2 separate regions of the Homo sapiens genome follow, and region 2 is linked to region 1. The links come from fine-mapping of genetic effects on gene expression. A gene starts in region 1. The other region holds a variant in brackets. All regions are shown on one strand. Distances are between the middles of the regions.

The links. PIP is the estimated chance that this variant, and not a neighbour inherited with it, causes the effect. A credible set is the group of variants that fine-mapping cannot tell apart.
Region 2: its variant is the best candidate, but not a certain one, in a credible set for the expression of REEP3 in monocytes (CEDAR, PIP 0.87).

The regions. Positions count from the first base shown.
Region 1 is chr10:63,518,627-63,524,013 of GRCh38, forward strand. It overlaps REEP3 (receptor accessory protein 3), which reads left to right and starts at 2,775. Exons shown (of 8, transcript NM_001001330.3): 1 at 2,775-2,951. The coding sequence starts at 2,920. It also overlaps a transcript of JMJD1C not described here. RefSeq lists an enhancer at 1,971-2,020 and a silencer at 2,411-3,460.
Region 2 is chr10:63,619,770-63,625,156 of GRCh38, forward strand. REEP3 (receptor accessory protein 3) reads left to right here. Exons shown (of 8, transcript NM_001001330.3): 7 at 1-31; 8 at 1,044-5,359. The coding sequence ends at 1,100. It overlaps LOC105378329 (a long non-coding RNA gene), which reads right to left and starts at 5,344. Exons shown (of 4, transcript XR_001747467.3): 1 at 5,050-5,344. The variant C/CTTTTT (reference allele first, on the strand shown) is at 2,936.

The DNA of each region.
Region 1 (5,387 bases):
TCAGTTAAAATCATGATGCAAGATGGAGGTTCCAGGCTTTGATAATTACAAATACTACATGAAAGTCAGGCAGATATTCTTAAATCATGCAAGACATGGGGACACTTTGTTCAGGACTGTCCCACACCTCTCTAGCCTTCACTCAACAAATGCAAGTTGTTAGCTCCAATCATTACAACAATCTAAAAAATGCCTTCCAGTTTCCCCTTGGAGGGCAACACCAAGCTGGACCCACCGCCTTAAACACAGTTCCGCTATCTATCCCAGTATAATGTAAACAAGCTTGGGAAGCATGAATTAGATCTCCAGTTCTGTTACCAATGACCTATGTGATCACCCGCCAGTTGAGTTAACTTCTCTAAACCTCACTTTCCATGGTACCAAAAGGGAATAAACGCTATATGGCTTTTTAAGTTGTCAGAATGACTCAATGACACGTGTATAGCACATAGTAGGTGGTTTCCAACCCATGGCCTATTGAGATGTGAAAAAAGGCACTGTTCCAGGTAAATAGAAAGAAAGCAGCAAAAAGTAATCTAAATGTGGAAGAGGCAGAAGATATAATAAGCATACAAAATGAAACTTAACGCACAGCAGTCTAGGGACATTTCAGAGAGCAGCCAGCCATCCTACCTAGGTTGCCTTCAGCAACCCCTGAAGGCATTAATGTACTAGGATTAGCTGAAATAATTAATATTCACAATGATGACCTCCAAAGTAAAAAGGCAAGAAAGACATTTTTAAGAGACTTCCAATGTACGTGGCTGAAATTTTTTAAATCTGATGCCTAAAGAGTGACTGTATTTCACAAACATTATTCAAATTTTTATTGGACGTTTACCCTATCTGAGGCTAGATAGTTGGAAAACACAAAGAAATCTAATACACCATGTCTGTTCTCAAACATTTTACCATTCAGTACATTAGACATGGTAGAGGCAGAATGACACAGATAAGAAATAGAAATTCAAGTAATAAATTATGAGAGCACAGACAAAATTAGGAATAATTGTCCCTGAGGAAAACCAAGGATGTCTTCATGGCACAGGCCACTGAAAAATGAGAGTTCTGATAGGTACAGAATGGGGAGCAAAGTGTTAAGGGAAAAACGAAATCTGGGCAAAAGCACTGAGCATGAAAATACAGGTTGGCTGAAAGAAGAGAGGTAGGGAACGGGTACATTAGGAGTTGGGGGTGAAAGTAGTAAAAGTAAAGGCTGTAAAGCTATTTCAGGACCTTTCATGAAGGGATCTGAATGATATTCAAATTCATTTGAGTTTTATTGAACAAGAGAGTTCGCCAAAAAACTGGTGCTTATGCAGCACACCTGATCCTCAAATAATGCTGAATAATGGCCAAAAATAAAAGATTCAGAGTTAAATGCAAATTATTACTCAAATTCCTGAAATAAAAAGTCTTGACATGAATTAATAAGCGAAAAGAACCTAACCCAAGAGTAGAAAGTAGCTTCTGAGCTTGTTTCTTAAATAATGAAATATTACCCAATTTATTGACTGAGAACTGAAAATAATTTAGGATAATCTGTTGTGTCCTTTGATTGTCTTCCATGCAAGTCAGAGTATTTCCTAAACATATTATTTAGCAGTGCCTCATATCACCCTTGAAAGGCAAGAGACAGACTACAGTATTATTACCCCCTTTTTATCACAGGGAAACTGAGGAACAAGAAGACAAAATTACAGTATGGTCACAAAAGCCATCATATTTTCTAGGACTTTAATTAAAGGCTCCAAGCCTACATTTCATCTTTTATTCTTCGCACCATCTGAATACTAGAATTATCTTTTACTATCGTCTTAACTGGAAAAAATAAAAATATCTAAACTTTAACATCATTTTCTCAATTTGGTACTGTCACAAAAAAAAAAAAAAAACAGTTTTAAAAGTCTGCCCTTGAAATGATATTTGCAAGAACAGCAAGGTGTAAGCAGTAACCCAACCTCCAAAAAATACAGTTGTAAATCTTACAGCTGTAATATAGTTGTAAATCTTAAGACAGGTCAGGAATCCTAGACCCAGCCTTTACTTTGAACATCTGGCAGGCCTCAGGGAAATAATGGAGATTCGTGTCTGTAAACAGTCTTTGCAGATGCTCTGATGAAAAGGTGCCCTAAGAGGCCCAGAACAGTGGTATCACTGCACCCACTACTGCAAACATGAAATCCTCCTCTGTCCCTCCCTGCATTGCACCACGAGACTCGTGGCACACACGGAGGCCTGTGCAAGAACCTCTCGACGATTCCTTTAAAATGTGGTAATATAAGGACGCCTTTGGTGCTGGGCCTCCGTAAACACTGAGGATACCGGATGTGGCCAGGCACACCTCAAAGTCTTGGCTCTCCAAAACCAGGGCCTGGTCGAGAGTTTTATTGGACACCGAGTTCCTGCGAATATCTCACTTTTCACACAGGCACTGCCAATCCCTACCCTCCAGTACCCTTCCTCAGCCTCCTGCCCCACTCTCGCCGCGAGTGTGGGCGTCCCAAAGAGCTAAGGAGGGTAAGGTTGGTTAGAGCGCAGGGGCCAAGGCCGCGGCAGCGAGGCCGTCCAGCGCGGGCTAGGATCCCGCCAGCCCAGCCCTGGAGCCCGGCCGCCTGGCCCCAGCCCTGGCCCGGGCCAACGCGCCGCCGCCACCGCCTATCAGCGGAGCGCAGGGGCGGGGTGCTGTCCGGACTAGGCTGCCGGGCCGGCGGGCGGGGGCGGGCGGGGACGGGCGGGGGACCGACCTCTGCGCAGCCCAGGCCGCCGCGCGCACACACCGGGCCCGGCTCCTGAGGGCGCCAGCGCGGCCCCGGGGAGCGCGAGGAGCCGGCGAAGCGCGCGGCCTGCCGTTGGCGGCCTGGTCCGCAGCGCCCTGCGCCCACCCGCCCCGGACGTGGGGCCCAAGCCCCCGTGAAGATGGTGTCCTGGATGATCTCCAGAGCCGTGGTGTAAGTGCCTCTCACTGCGCCCTGCAGCCGGCGCGAGGCCCAGGGGAGCTGTGGGAAGGGGAAGGAGCCGAGAGGAAAGGGAAGGCCTGGGCCTGGGCGGGGACGGGGTAGCCCGGCCTCGGGCCTGCCGAGGGTCTGGGGGAGCCCTCGGCTTCCTCACCTTGGTCCACGTCGCTGCGGAGCTCCCTGCGACGGCCGAGGGCCTAGCTGCGGCGACTGCGGCTGCGACGGCGGCGGCGGCTGTGGCGCTGCTCGGCTGCGTGCGGTGCGGCGCGGCGCCCCTGCTCCGGCGGCGCTGGGTGGGCAGGCGCTCAGGGCAGGCGGCGCGCGCTCCCCGCTCCTGCTCCCCGCGCAGCGCGGCACCGCCCTGCGGGCCCGGGAGCGGCGCGCCTCGCAGCTGCTCCCTGCGCAGGCTCCGCAGACGCCGAGCGCGGGAGGCTCCGCGATCCTCCCGAGGATGCGACGGCAGTGCCGAGCCTTTGTATCCCGCGGCTGATGCGTTGCGGTGTCTCTCTTGGCGGCTGATTGCCATTCGGTCACGTGTGGTAGGAGGAGAGATTTGTCTAAAAACCGGAGACCGCTCCCAGCCCAGGATCCCTGGGAAGGGTCCTAGTTTTCCCAAGATTTGCAGCTTACCGAGAAAGGTGACACCGGCTGCTCGCCCAGATCCCCGAATTCGGCCCTGTCTCGGCGGAAATATTTGCTAAGTGATTGAAAGGCTGCAGGTGCCTGTTGCCTTTGTTCAAATTATGGGTTCATTTCATTGTTCTCCTACCAACAAGTGCTACAGGTCTGTAAGAAAAAGAAATTCCTTGAGTTGGTGGTGTTAATCGTGTAAATGTATTTGAATACAGTTTAAACTGATTTTCTCTCATCTCCATTTTACCCCTCTCCCCGATTAAAAAAAAAGTCACCAAGTAAACAATGACGTAGTTACAGCTAGGGCCTATGAATTCATTATTCACCTCTGTAGTAGTGTTATCTCAGAAGGTTTCATAAAGGTATATGAAAAAATGTTTATGTGAGGGGGCAGGCTTCTCTGATAAGCTTTAGAATTTAGGAAAAATAACATTACCAGACTTTTTGTTAAAAGGAGCTAGATTTTCTGAGTTTGGGGTTTATTTTGTTTGGAAGTGAATTACTAGCCCTATTTAATCAGATTTGCAGCACAGCATTCAAAATTTTTCATTTGATTAAATCGCAAAGTTTCTAGTTTTAAAGCCTCAGAGCTTCCTGTGTTCCCCTGTACGAAACTAAAAATCAAGATATAAACAAAAGGATACCACAGATGCCTTCAGATTGTTTTTCAGCCTTTTCCTGGCCTCTCTTTTGAGTCTGTCATTTATCTAATTCAGGCATACCTTTCTTGACCTAGTAGATGTCTATCAACTGTTGTGTCCACACCTAGAAAATCAAGTGCCCTATTAAGAAGCTGTACTTTACAAAAAAAAAAAAAAAAGCCTCTGGATTTCTTTGACCAGTTCTTCAGCTGACAGAAAATTGTGAAGCACTTTTAGACTTTTGTTTTTCATAATTGCCAATGAATATGAATGTCTGTTCTAGGTGCTACCTATAACACAAAGGTCAGTAACACGTAGTTGATCATGGGAATTGACAGTTTGGGTGCACAGATATCTGCAGTACAGGTCCAAATGTCAACTCTTGTAAAAGTTACACCCACTCTAATACCCAGTGTTGGACAAGGAAGGGATATCTGGTTGGAGAATCAGAAAAGGCAAGGGAGATTACGTTTCAGATGGGCCTTAAAGAATAGGCCCAGTAGAGTGGCTCACACCTGTAATCCTAGCACTTTGGGAGGCCAAGGAGGGAAGATTGTTTGATCACAAGAGTTAGAGACCAGCCTGGGCAACATAGCGAGACCTTGTCTCCACAAAAAAAGAAAAATTTAATTAGCTAGTCACAGTAGCTCACACCTGTAATCCCAGCTACTCAGGGACTGAGGTAGGAGGATCGCTCAAATTCAGGAGGTCAAGGCTGCAGTGAGCCGTGATCGTGCCACTGCACTCCAGCCTGGGCCACAGAGTGAGACTGTGCCTCAGAAAAAAAACAAAAAAGAATGGACAGAATCTAGGCAGCCAAAGATGAAAAAGGAAAGGATTCCAGATATAGGGACCGGCGTGAGCCAAAGCCCAGAGGAGGAAAAGCCCAGATTAGTTACAGTGGGCGTGAGGGACTCGGGTGGGGAAAAAGCAAGCTGGAAAGGTAGCCTGGGGCCTGTTTTCAAGAAAGAAGGGGTAAATGTTATAAGGCAGCAACAGCTTTGCTTTGGAAGATTCTCTGCCCTTCTGTGAAATGATTGGCAATGGAGACCTGGAAGACAAGGAGACTCCTTAGGAGGCTCCCTAACTGGAGAGAGGGGATTAAAGCCTCTCTCCAGTTAAAGTACTTGAGCTACAGAATGTAAGGTTTGAGGCT
Region 2 (5,387 bases), 100 kb after region 1:
ATCTGTGAAAACCACCAAAGGCCGCAAAGAGGTTGGTTAAGTGTAGAGCTGTTTTCCTAATGATTAGTGAAGGATTTCCCTGCTGTGTTATCATTTAGGATATTAATGATCCATAAATGAAGGATTGGAATGGTAGAACAGCAGTTTGATTTTTTTTTTTTTTTTTTTTTTTTTTAGTTTTTGGGGATAGAGCTTTTTTGCTTTGTCAACCAAATTGGAGTGCAGTGTGGCGTAATCACAGTTCACTCAAACTCCTGGGCTCAAGCAGTCCTCCCACCTCAATCTCCCAAGTAGCTGGAACTACAGGCACATGCCACCGCACCTGGCTAATTTTTTCATTTTTTGTAGAGACAGGGTTTCACCATGTTGCCCAGGCTGGTCTTGAACACCTGGCCTCAAGCAATCCTCTCGCCTCCGCCTCTCGAAGTGCTGGGATTCCAGGCGTGAGCCACCTCACCTGGCCAGCAGTTTATATTTAAAATTCTTTATTCAGATCAATGTATCAGGATATCAGGAAATTTTGAAAATGGTAAACTCTTAATCTTCTGCTATACGTAGAAAATGGCATTCTCATTTAGCAAATCACATAGTTCAAATACCCAGTCCCAGCCCTATGCATAAACAAAGAAAGCAATGAATAAAATTAACCACACAGTTTTGCTTTCAACTAATGCTACATGAAGATTAAATAGTAAACAGTTAACCATAATAACATATTGTCTTTATACCCAGAAAGCAGTGGAGGACTGTGAATGGCCTCTGATCATTATAATCAATGTTCATTGACATTGTACTAAGCAAAACATAAATAATAGGATTAATGTTTTTATGTTATTAGTAATAATCTGTAACATATATCTAAATATTACCAACTACATTTTTTATGAGTTTATAAGTAGTGCTGTCTTATATACATTTATTAAGAGAATTCATTCTTTATATCAAAAAGGTAAAAAAATTACTATGATTATGAACTATTAAATCTGATGTAATTTTTTAAAGTAATCATCTAATTCTTAATAATAAAACATTTCTCTCTTCAGGTGCGGTACGGGTCACTAAAATACAAAGTGAAGAAACGACCACAAGTGTATTTTTAGTCATCTACACGTCAAATATCCCAAGACAGATTATGCTAAATACATCGACTTCATCTTCTAACATGATATATTCAGGATTTACACATTAAAATGATTATTTAAATTGTGGCAGTGATGGGGTTTACTTTCATGAATTTAAATTGTTTTTATTTCTGTAACAATTGCTTCCAAATATTGACTACTAAAGGCAGTTCTGCAAGATGTACTAAATATGTATATTAGAAATTATAGAAAATCATGTTGTCCGTTTTCAAATTCATCAACAGCCTAGAGTGCCTGAGATATAAGATGAAACACAAATCCACAGTATACTTGAAAGGAGCCTTTTTACGGTTCAGGATAAATCAGCCTTTGTGATGTACTGTGTTTACCTCCTTTTGTGTTGTATCTGGTAATTAAATAGGCCTCAGATTCAGCAGTGACATAACAAGGACATAATGTAAGATAATAAAGTAGGTTTTATATATTCTTTAAATTTTTACTTATATAATACTTTCTAGTTTTTCCACCATCAGCTGAAAGTTTTTGAAACAAATATTTGAAAACCAGGTATCCACACATAGCACTTTTATTCCTGACTAGTTTTGCACACTTGAAAATTGTTTACTTATTTTACAACTGTTTTACTGATGCTATCTTTATTGTTTTTGCCGTATTCTGACATGTCAAATCTATGCCTTGAATTATATCATCTCTTTTCCTGTGGGTTTCATTTGTTAAATTCATTGGATTTTAATAATATAAAAGTATAGCTAATTGTTCAGTTTTAACTATTTTTAATTATCTTCTTAACAAATAAGAAGTTGCTTTAAACATTAACCAATTTTCTATATTTAGCTATACAGAGTAATTGAACTTAACATGTTTTTGTCAACACCAATTACATTTTCAGCTTTTAAAAATGGTAGCTTTTGTGAAATAGAATCAGTGACCAGTATAGCACTTAGATCCCTTCTAACTCATATAATTTTTCTCAGCCAATCCATTCACAAGCTTGGCATTGACATGTGCTGCTAGTTTATAAACTGGCATTGACGAAAATCATTTGAATCTCTTCTGGCTGAGATAATTTGCCAATGCAAAATACAGTTGTCATTAATCCTGCACATTAGAAATTATTAGAAACATATTACTTTTTAACTTTAAATCTCAAAGAGATTTTGAGTTATTGAATTCTTAAGGCTTTCTTAGCTTGAACTGATAACTATGCATTATGAACCCTAAGTCAATATATTTTTGGTGGTTTTAGTGATCAGTAATCAAATTTGTACTTATTATGCTTGTTCAGGTAATTTACTTGACTGTTCTATTTGTTTGTCCAAAAGATAAAATGATGAGAGAGATTCGAGAGGTCTTTGATCTGTCTCCCTTTTAAGAAATGAAGCCAGCTGGTAATGTATATTCAGGACTTCCTCAGAGTATTGGCCAAGAACATAATGTTTACACAGGAGTACCTTGGTATAATGCATACATTGTCTCATGATACTAGTCATAAAATATTTTATGGATTATTTCACATTCTTCATATATAACAAGTAAAATTAATTCAGTTTTCTTCTCCCAACGTTTAATTCTGAATAACTCTATCTACTTTACCCTAATTTTTAGCCTCTTAATTTCTGGAAGGACTCTAATTTCTATTCCAAATTTCTATGAATTCTAATTGTAAATTATCGGAACAGAGTTTTATTTATATGACCTGGTACTAGACTTCTTAATATAACTGTTACACTGTCCTTGTCTTTCCTACTCAAAGACAGTATCATCTGAAGTTGCCTAATAAGGTCATGTGAGTCAAGAACTTTATCTGTGGGAGCTGATTTGCACCATTTTAC[C/CTTTTT]TTTTTTTTTTTTTTTTTTTTGAGACGGAGTCTTGCTCTGTCACCAGGCTGGAGTGCAGTGGCGCGATCTCGGCTCACTACAACCTCTGCCTCCCGGGTTCGAGCGATTCTCCTGCCTCGGCCTCCCGAGTAACTGGGTCTACAGGCCCGTGCTACCACGCCCAGCTAATTTTTGTCTTTTTAGTAGAGACAGGGTTTAACCATGTTGCCCAGGATGGTCTCCATCTCTTGACCTCGTGATCCGCCCGCCTCGGCCTCCCAAACTTCTGGGATTACAGGCGTGAGCCACCGCACCCAGCCACCATTTTATCTCTCTAAAGTCTGGTCCCAGTATTAAACCTATTCTTTAGTAAACTCATATTACTGTTCTAAATTGAAGAAATTATTTATTACTCTGTACTTCTAGACTCAAAATTCTTTATCAAAGATAGTCTCAAAGAGGTAGTACAAGTCCTGTTTAACTGCACTTTTTCACATTCACAGTGCTTCCTCTGATATCTTTCCTTACATCATTATACACTGTTGATATCATTTTACTCTTCTTTCTCTTCTACATTTCTTAAATTTTGGTTCTTTTCCTGTACATGTGTTTTAGCGGGGCCCTTTTCTTTGAACTTTGTCTAATTAGCCTGTACATTTTTGTTTCTTTTAAGGTAGAACAGATCTTTTTTTGTTTCTCCTTTTAAGTCTACTGGTTTTAAAAGAGGTAAATGTATCCATAGACCACAGTGCCTTGCTTTTTCCTCTGCCAGCACATGGAGCACGGGATTAGATGCACAAACCTATTTAGGGAACTATTTTGGTAGATGTTTGAGTTTATACAGAAATTGCAGCTGGTATTTTATTTTGCTGTACATTTACTCAACTTGTCCATTAGTATTTAACTATTTCCAGAGTTTGTTTAGGAGTAAGAATTGACCCATTCGTTAGTTTACCATATTTTTTCCTGGTATAAAAAGGAGCCAGAAATAAGCCTTATTGCTAAATAATTAATTATGTAAGCCCACCTAGGTCCTGCATAAGATCCCCCTCACATACTTCACAATATATATGTGTGTGTGTGTGTGTGTGTGTGTGTGTGTGTGTGTGTGTGTATTTGGCTAAAAAATTATACTGCCAAAATTACTGATTATAAATACTTGACTACACTGATTGATGGGACAAAATGATTAAAGTATTTTCAGGGATCTTATTCCATATGTCACCACCAAAGATTTCTACAGTGTTATAAAGTATATAAATATTCCAAATTTCTGTGGTTAAATATTTTTTTCTTTTTTTTCCTTTTTTAGAATAACACAGTCTGTGCTTTCCAAAAATGCTTGAACTTTTATGTTGTTAAGAAATATATAATGATATCTTACATTAAGCATGAGTCTAATTTGTATTAATTGGGATGGACTAAATTTTCATTTGATTATCAGGAAAATTAAGGAGTTATATATTTAAAAGCAATTTTCTGTGTTTTCTTCTTTGTAAGTTGACTCATTTGTGAAGCAATTAGGCAAATTTTGAGAAGATCATTGTTATTGTGGTTTGCAGTATATATTTCTTAGTAAATATCACTTAAGATTAAATTTTTCAGAAAGAAAATTATAGCTTTTTTCCCAAAATATTTTTAAGATTTAATCTTTTTGTAGTATGCTACAGATTTAATTATATTAACTCTTTTTTAAGACATTGACCATGACTTAACATTTTGCCTTCTAACACCTTTTAAATCTATGTACTTTAATAGTTAAGAGAAAATAAGTTTGCAGATTTTTAATAATCTGTTTGTAAAAGGCTATCTCTAAGCCTAGTATGTGGGTAATTTTACAGGTGTGTTTTTTGATAACTTTAATATAAAATAAACTCATTTTATTTGTGGCAATTCGCGTTTCTTTTTTTATGCCAGAGTACATATGTTGGATTCCATGAATTGGTATTACTTATTATTATGTGTTGATTAAATATATGCACACACTTAGGATTACAGATCACAGAGCAAATTATGAAAATCATAAACATTCTGGTATGGTCATCCATAGGATTATGAAAAAGAAATACTGAATTGTTAAATTTGGATGTTAGAAAGGAAAGATAGGAAAAACAATGAGTACAGAAATCCTCACCATCAATTTGGATGGGTTAGCTGTCTCAGGCATAAAATGTAACACAAAATTCAGATTTATGTATCCTGGAAATGTTCTGGGGTTCCATCTGTTTTAAAGTTAGACGTCTGTCTGCCTCACATTTAAGCTTTAGAGAGAAATCCTATGTTTTAAGAAGTTTCTTTGTGTTACTTCATTATGACACATAATGCGTGTTAAGGTCTTTCTAGATAGCATTTTAAATGGAATTATTTTCATTTTCATTATGAGGTATATACTTGTAATGATCTAAAGAGGTTAGAAATATAAATAAAAATTCAAAAGAACACAATATATGAACGGCATTTTTTTTCAGTGTT